Regions from separate parts of the Homo sapiens genome. Here region 1 is linked to region 2. Evidence: fine-mapped expression QTL. A gene starts in region 2. The other region holds a variant in brackets. All regions are shown on one strand. Distances are from middle to middle.

Region 1 (4,401 bases), 29 kb after region 2:
TGTTCTGAATAAGTTTGTTGATAATAAAATGCCTATGCCAATCTTATCCTCTTAGATACTCTGGATCTACCTGAAAAGACCAGTTGGGTGAAATTTAATGTGGACTCAAATGGTTACTACATCGTTCACTATGAGGGTCATGGATGGGACCAACTCATTACACAGCTGAATCAGAACCACACACTTCTCAGACCTAAGGACAGAGTAGGTCTGATTCATGATGTGTTTCAGCTAGTTGGGTAAGGCAACATTTCCTCTGACTTCATGCAAAATAACTGATTCGTAACCAGATATGCTAGACTTCAATATTGAATGTTCAACATTGGTCATTGATTTAATATGGATTTGAATGGAATTCAAACAGTGATCACTAGGCCAAAGACTACCCACTAATAACGTATTTTGACCCACACAGTGTTTATAATTGTAATCCAATATTTTAAAATGTGGAGAACTTTACCTAAAAATCCTGACCTCTGGAATCTCTTAAAAATGATATTTGGCAACTGTGGGTCTTTATCCTGTGGGCCACAGGATAGCTATAAAGGAGAGTGCAGTGGGCCAAACTCTCTTTAGGCCAGGCCTACTTTCTCCCAAGCACCAAAGTCCCAAATGGCCTGTTTCATTCACTTAGTGTGGACTCTCTAAGTATTTGAGCTTTCGACCCCACATTTAAAATGTATTTATGTTATTAGCTGCTACACCAAATACCGGTGTAATCTCTTAAGGAAAAGTACAAATATAGTCTTAACTTTTATAATTTTAAATGGGTTGTTATGAAATCTATTCATTACTTACACTGGAGAAATTAGTATGACGTTTGTAGGGAAATGAAGTAATAAATGGCTGTTTGCATTCATTCCTCTCTAGACTTTCCTGGAAGGACAAAGTGTTTTCTTTCTTTTTCTATGTATCATGAACAGAATAATGTGTGGAATGAATCAGGTCACAAGATCACCAATGGCTGGAGGGAATTGAGGACCAGGAAGTATATTGTGCATTGCAAGCTTTCCCTATTCTGAGAATTACTGTGATGCACTCACTTTACTCAATGTGACATATAATTTTCTTTCAGGAGCTTATTTAGGTCAAATTGAGTGAAAGTGACCAGCAGGACATCTCTGAGACAAAGTTTCTCGGTACACTAAAATCCTCTAGTTAGAAAGAAAAGAGGAAGTGAGGCTTAATCCTCAGTCCCGTGGGTCTCAGGAACATCTTGGAGGCATAGCTCATTGGAGGCCAAAATTAGGAAAAACACCATCCTACATATGAGTGAATGCATGAAAGGTGAGCTAAGAAGCAAGCTATTGCTAGTTGAAGGAGGTTTGCCTGCTCAAAGGAGAAGCTCTGAGTAGATTGAAGAGAAGATAGATTAACAATGCAAGACTTGGAAAAAATGGAGAATATTGACAATTCAGCAAATTAATCTTTTAGGTAGTTGTGAAATCTTTTTTGCTGTTTCTAGCCTATCCACTTAGATTGTCTAAATTTAGTAGGAGGAAATTTGCAGTTATTGATGCATTGGTGGAAAACTAATCATCTTTTCTTCACTAAGTAGACAGATTAATGAAGTTAAGAATACAAATTTTATATGAAAATTTCAAGAAGATTTCAGGTATTACCTCTTCACTTACTAATTTTTTGAGCTTGGACAAGTTTTGTTTTTTTAACCTTTTTAAGCCTAAATTTTCCAGTCTTTAAAACTTTATTACTAATAATATCCGATATACAAGGTTTGGAGGATTGCATAGGTAATGAAGATAAAGCAGTAAGTGCAGTACTTACTCAATAAATGTCAGCTGTTAACATTATTAGTATTATCTAATACAAATTATTTGAAATGTCATGACATGAATAGGAGGAGGAGATGACAACATAGAAAAGTACACTTCAAATAATGTGAAGTTGAGAAAAAGGCAGAATGTAAGTCTGTGTATTATTATGTTTGTTTGCAACTACAAATGAAAAAAATAAGTGCGAAGGGGAAACAAAAACCTGAAGGAATTATTTCAAAATGCTATTGTTGAGTGTGTAGGGTATTGAAATTATGAGCCTTCTCTAATTTCTGGTTGTTTTGTAATTATGAGTCTAATTTCTAGTTGTTCTGAAATTTGTTTATATTTACTTATATTACATTTATAACAAAAGTAATTGTATAAGAAAACAATTTAAAGCTCTCATAATAGATAAAAATAAATAATTTTTACTTGCTGTTCTTTCTCAATACTATAAACCACTTTCCTCCCTGCTTTATGAAACTTCAATTTAAGAATTAAAGGAGGCCCGGCACAGTGGCTCATGCCTGTAACCCTACCATTTTGGGAGGCTGAAGCAGGCAGATCACTTGAAGCCAGGAGTTTGAGATCAGCCTGGGCAACATAGTGAAACCCCATCTCTACTAAAAATAAAAAAATTAGCCCAGTGTGGTGGTGTACGCCTGTAATCCCAGCTACTTGGGTGGCTGAGGCACATGAATCGCTTGAACCCAGAAGATCACGCCACTGAACTCCAGCCTGGGTGACCGAATAATACTCTGTCTCAAAAAACAAACAAACAAAAAAGAATCAAAGGAACCAATAGTGATCACATTTAGTTTGGAGAGATAATTTTTTTTTCTTTTTA[A/AT]TTTTTTTTTTTTTTTGTAGAGACAGGGTCTCCCTATATTGTACAGGCTGATATTGAATTCCTGGCCTCAAGCACTTCTGCTCAGCCTCGCAAATTGCTCAGTTTACAGGCATGAGCCACCACACCCAGTGTAAATCAATCTTTACAAGAGGTGATACTATTTAGTTCTTTAGTGGACAAGACATTGTCATCCAAGGGCTGTCTCCAGAGCCATTCTCTTAACCACGACACGACACTGTCTCTTTTTTTTTTCTTCCTCCCCCTCCTCCTCCTCTTCCTTCTCCTCCTCCTCTTCCTCTTCCTCTTCTACTTCTTCCTCTTCTTCTTCTTCAAGGGCTTTGCTCTTCTTCTTCAAGGGCTTTACTCAGGCTGCAGTGCAGTGGTGCGATCATGGCTCACTGCAGCCTCAACCTCCTGGGCTCAAGCGATCCTCCCACCTCAGCCTCCTGAGTAGCTGGGACTACAGGCACACACCACCATGCCCAACCAATTTTTAAATTTTTTGGCAGAGATGGCGTCTGCCTATGTTGTCCAGGCTGGTCTCAAACTTCTGGGCTCAAGCAATCCTCCTGCCTCGGCTTCCCCAATTGCTGGGATTACAGGTGTGAGCCACTGCACCCAGAATGGAGAGAGAATTTGATGCAAGAATTGATATTTATTTTAGTTCGGTTTTCATACATTTTAAATGTAATTTAAAGACAGGGGTCTTGGATAAGTTGAGTGGAATTGAAATGACAACTTCAATTTGCCTATAGAAAAAGCTATATTTGTTTCTTTTAGTCCCACACCTTAAAGAGAAAACCCCACATTGGGCGCAGTGGCTCACGCCTGTAATCCCAGTACTTCGTGAGGCCAAGGCGGGTGGATCACCTGAGGTCAGGAGTTCAAGACCAGCCTGGCCAACATGTTGAAACCCCGTCTCTACTAAAATTATAAAAATTAGCTGGGCATGGTGGTGTGTGCCTTCCCAGCTACTTGGGAGGCTGAGGCAGGAGAATCGCTTGAACCCGGGAGGCAGAGGTTGCAGTGAGCCAAGATTGTGCCATTGCACTCCAGCCTGGGCAACAGGAGTGAAACTCCATCTCAAAAACAAAACAAAACAAAACAAAACAGAAAACCCAAATTGGTGCTTCAAGAATATGATGTTATTTCTCAAAGGTACAATCTAGCTGAAATCATATACAAGTAAGTAGGTGTGGACTTTTACTGTTGAGCTAAGGTTTATGTTTATATATGTTTTATTCTTTAAGCTAAACAAACATTCAGATAACATTCTATGCATTTTTTGAAGCATAGGGTTAGTAATGAGGACTTAGATTTTTTAATTAAACAACTCAGTAACTATATAAAAAGAAAAGGAGTCCCTTATGAATAAATATTAAAATTAAAAGAAATAGGCAACTATAAAAGTAAGTATTTTTAATAATGGCATTGATTTTAGTAAGAAATCAATTAGGCTGGGCTGGAAAGAAAAACTGGCTTAATATAAAGTAGTTTTAATATGTCAAATATTCTTCTTAAAATTGTGGCCCTGGAATATCATTTCTGCCTATTGCTGATGCTAAGGTATCAACTGTGCCAGGTATTGTGCTGCTCACACAGGTGGGAAGGAGTAGCAACATTTTGTGGATTTTTTTTTTTTTAATACGGCAGACTAGCCGGGCCAGGTGGCTCATGCCTGTAATCCCAGCATTTTGGGAGGCCGAGGCGGGTGGATCACCTGAGGTCAGGAGTTCAAGACCAGCCTGGCCAACATGGTGAAATCCCGTCTCTACTAAT
Region 2 (4,401 bases):
GAGCCCATTTTGCTGAGAAACTCTTTTAAATAAGCTACAAGTACTTGAATCTGGCTCAATTTTCACTTCTAGGATTCTGCAGCTCAATTCCATAGCCTGTTTCTTCATTCTCCATCACCACTTCTGTTCCAGTGGGCAGGAGAGAGCTCTGAAAACACACATGCACTCGCCCACATACCCACAGCTAGGCTGGATCTTGTGACAAGGAATATCACAGAAATACTCCCAGCCTCCTATACCTCTTCTACCTGCCCCCACGCCCTGCAGAGTTAGAGTCCGTAGATAAGCCCTTGGGGCCTCCTCTTCTTTGTCGTCTTTGTCCCCTTCTTTTTCCCACTCACTGGCTTCCAGCCATCCCCCTTCCTGTGGTGCCCCTCTCACTACATGAAATGCAGCTCTGAGGGACCCCATTCAGTCTTATGTTTCGGGCCTTAGGTGTAGGCTACTGCCTTCCTTTCTGCCCCTTCTACTTTATCGACTTGTTCTTTCAGGTTGAAATAATAAAATGTAGAAAGGTGGAAAAATTAAAGCTTGAGACTTAACTAGGATCTAATCATGGCAACATGTGCTATTGGGCCAAACATAGGTTGCAAACACAAACCACAGCAGGACAAGGCACATGATACAAGTCTATGAAGAGTGTCTGCAACATGATAAGAGCTAAGCTTGTTATATTTCACTTGACAATAGAAATTGTATGGATGTATTGCCATTTAATAGACTGTGATTCAAACAAAACAACTATAGGCTGGCATATAGGCTGCCAGTAGGCCACTATGGTTCCCACACTAGGACTTGCCCCTCTGTAAATGGGGAAATCAAGGAAAGATCTTGAGCAGTGGGGGAGGCATGGTCGAGCAGTAGTTGAAAGGATTAATCTGGTGGCATCGTACAAGTAACTGCAAGAAGCTGAGCTTGAGAAGCTGGGAAGACATGATTGAAGGCCATTGTGAGGAAGGATGAGGACCTGGACTACTTTAATAAGCGGTGGGATTTTTTCTTAGTTGGATAGAAAGAGATTGAAAATGATTCAAAAAGGCCAGTTGCGGTGTCTCATGCCTGTAATCCCAATCCTTTGGGAGGCTGAGGCAGAAGGATCACTTGAGCCTAGGAGTTTGAGACCAGCCTGAGCAACATGGGAAGACCTCATCTATAAAAAAAAAATAATAAATTAGCTGGGTGTAGTGGTGGATGCCTGTAGCCCCAGCTACTTGGGAGGCTGAGGTGGGAGGATCATTTGAGCTCAGGAAGTCAAGGCTGCAGTGAGCTGGGATGGCACCACTGCACTCCAACCTGGGTGACAGAGTGAGACCCTATCTCAAAAAAAAAAAAAAGAAAAGAAAAGGAAAAATCAACAGGCTTTGGTAACAAATTGGAGAGGGACAGAATCAAAGTAACTAACTATATGGTTCAATCCTAGATAATGGAAGAAGGCTGGAAGCATATAAAGCAAAGGGTGTTTATCTGGGGAAAGAAAACACTATTTGAGTTGTCAGGGTTCTGGTTCAGGTTAGGGTTAGACATCCATGTACTGTTGGTCCATCAGGCTGTTGGAATTACAGCAGCAGAACCCTTGAAGGAGGGATCACAATGGGAGCAATGTGGGATGAATGGGGATAAATGCTAAATCTGGGTACTGGAAAGGATAAAGAGAGGGCAGAGCAAAGGCCAGAGGTTTCATCTTTGTGGAAGGTCTGTATTCAGAGCAGAGAGGAAGTTGAAGCCCAACTCAAACAGGCAGATAAAGAGAGATCAAAGAGATGAGCATGAGATACAGTCCCCTCGTGCCCAAGGAGACAGGGTGGTTACAGACATGGAAAATCTGAGAATAATCACCTCTGATAAAGATCACAGAAGCTGCCCGGGAGGTGTTTGGTAAGCTTGGAGTTACGTTTGTGGGGTGGATGGGCAGAAGTCAGATTTCATAGCACTGAGGATGCAGCACAAGGAGAAGTTCAAGATCAATTCCTAAGACAACAACTTGGCACTAAAAAACATAAACTATGTTCTGAAGGCTTTACCCTGGGGACAAGGGAAGGGAGGTGATAACAGCAGAAGTGGCAGCCACTGGCGATCCTTTCTTTCCATGGTTTGGCTTCTACTCCAAAGCCACTTATTTGTGCATTCTACAAAAAGTTTCTTGTCCTTTTTGAAATAAAGCTCTTATCCTAAGCTCCATTCACACCTGCGTGATAATGAACCAGCTAGTACTTACTGTACTCAGGAAGCATGCAAAGTTCTGAATCTTAGAACAGAAAGTGAAAGCAAAAGTAAATTCCCCTTCAGTCAAATCTGCAGCAGCATGATTTAAGGTAACGTATCAACATTTCTCTTGGGTTTGTCTTAAAATTAGATTTTTTCAATAAGAATAATGAACTGAAGGTATAGAACTGCTGTGTTGAGAAGGTTTTGTAATCTAAGGCAAGGTTCTGGGGGACTGGGGTGAATTGGGCGCGGCTGTATTAGAAAGTGTATGCAGTTGAGGCTGGGACTTGATCTAAGACGCTGCTGCACTGACTCTCTTTCAGAGATCTTTTTGTCTTTTCTAAGCGTTTGTGACAATTCTTGCCTCTTCAATCCCAGGATGTTTTGTTCACTGCATTGCTATTTAAGGTACAGTGCAGTATAATAGAAAGCCCACCAGACCAAAGGGCAAAGAGCTATGTTTTAGTCCTGATTCTGTTTCAGACTTCCTGTGTGGATTTTGAGAAGTCACCATCCTGTTCCTTCATCTGTTTATTTAATTTAATTTATGTATTTATTTATTTATTTATTTTGAGAGAGAGCCTCGCTCTGTCGCCCAGGCTGGAGTGCAGCAGCACGATCTCGGCTCACTGCAACTTCCACCTCCCTGGTTCAAGCGATTCTCGTGCCTCAGCCTCCCGAGTAGCTAGGACTACGGGCATGTGCCACCATGCCCGGCTAATTTTTGTATTTTTAGTAGAGGTAGGGTTTCACCATGTTGGTGAGGCTGGTCTCGAATTCCTGACCTCAGGTGATCTGCCCACCTTGGCCTCCCAAAATGCTGGCATTACAGACCTGAGTCACTGTGCCCGGTCCTGTTTCTTTATCTGAACACTAAGGACTTGTACTAGCTGGCCTTTACAACCCTTACTAGTTCTAAAGTTAAAGACTGTGTGAGTAAAGCTTTTCTCTCTACTCTTATCAATCAAGTACATCTCTAGGAGTGTCTGCTACAAGTGGGGGCGAGCTACTCCTTCATTTTGGCCATTGAATGCAAGTTATAACCTCAATAATAATTTCATATCCAACACTAATTACTTACTTCCTATATGCTCCATGCTGTGCTGTGCCAACTTCTTCACATGAATTATTTCATTTAATCATCCCAGCATGAGGAAGGTATAATTATTACACTGTTTTATGGTTGAGATAAATGAAGCTCAAAAAGTAAAAAACTTTGCCCATGATCACGTAGGTGAGGTTGGTGGAATTAGCGTTGGAATCTGGGCACTCTGATTCCAAAGCCTCAGACCCACATAATAAGCCACTCCATTTTTTTTAAACCCTCCAAAATTCAAGCTAATAGACCAATTATGAGTGTACTTATCAGACGTTCTTGGAACACTGAGATTTGTAGCAGTAATTTAATGCTTGTTTTTAAAAAGAGGGAGAAGTATCTTTAATATTATTTTATTTTTGTTCCTTTAACAATACCTGTCACCTGCATTAATATTGCAAATTGAAAAATTGAAGTAATTGTTTGGATAATTAATGCTGCAGAACTTGTTAAGGATTATAAAAAGAAGAAGTAGCAGAGAAAACCTTCATGGTTTGAGTTGGAGCAGTAAGGAAGTAAGTAGAGGCAGGTGGTAGGGTGGCAGTAAGAATTGATTCCCCCAAATTAACTATGCTGTTTGTCCTAATTTTATATGTGTTGTAGCTTTACCCTTCAAAAAGAAAGAAACTTAGTTCTATTTACAAAGGTAGTAAATTCAGTTTGATTTAATTGTGCTTTCAAAAGTAGTGTAAAGGGAAAAGAACCGAACCTTAAAAAAATTCTGTAAGAATATTATAAACTCAAAATTTATTTCCATGGCTTTTGACATATTGAAAATAAACTGGGGATAAATACCTACCTTGACCAGCAACCTTTACACCAGTAGCCATAAAATGAGGCCATTCAGATAATGTTATTGAAAGAGGTGAAGTTCAATGCCATTCGTAGTAATAATAATATCTGGTATCCAAAGAATATAGAATATATATATAGAATATTCTTTGTGACTTATGAAGACAAAATAGAGACATCTTGCACAGTTTACTTTCAGGCATACACTTAAAATTACATGTGTGCCTGTGGTTCCAGCTAATTGGGAGGCTGAGACATCAGGATTGCTTGACCCCAGGAATTTGAGGCCAGCCTGGGCAACATGGTGA

Evidence for each region. PIP is the estimated chance that this variant, and not a neighbour inherited with it, causes the effect.
Region 1: its variant is fine-mapped to the expression of ERAP2 in activated CD8 T cells (Schmiedel 2018, PIP 0.95).

What each region holds. Positions count from the first base shown.
Region 1 is chr5:96,903,322-96,907,722 of GRCh38, forward strand. It overlaps ERAP2 (endoplasmic reticulum aminopeptidase 2), which reads left to right. Exons shown (of 19, transcript NM_022350.5): 13 at 56-239. It also overlaps a transcript of ERAP1 not described here. Among named protein-coding and RNA genes, the nearest start is that of ERAP2, 29 kb to the left of the region's middle. The variant A/AT (reference allele first, on the strand shown) is at 2,623.
Region 2 is chr5:96,874,216-96,878,616 of GRCh38, forward strand. It overlaps ERAP2 (endoplasmic reticulum aminopeptidase 2), which reads left to right and starts at 2,285. Exons shown (of 19, transcript NM_022350.5): 1 at 2,285-2,312. It also overlaps a transcript of ERAP1 not described here. RefSeq lists enhancers at 1,924-2,053, 2,074-2,223, 2,394-2,603, 2,974-3,183.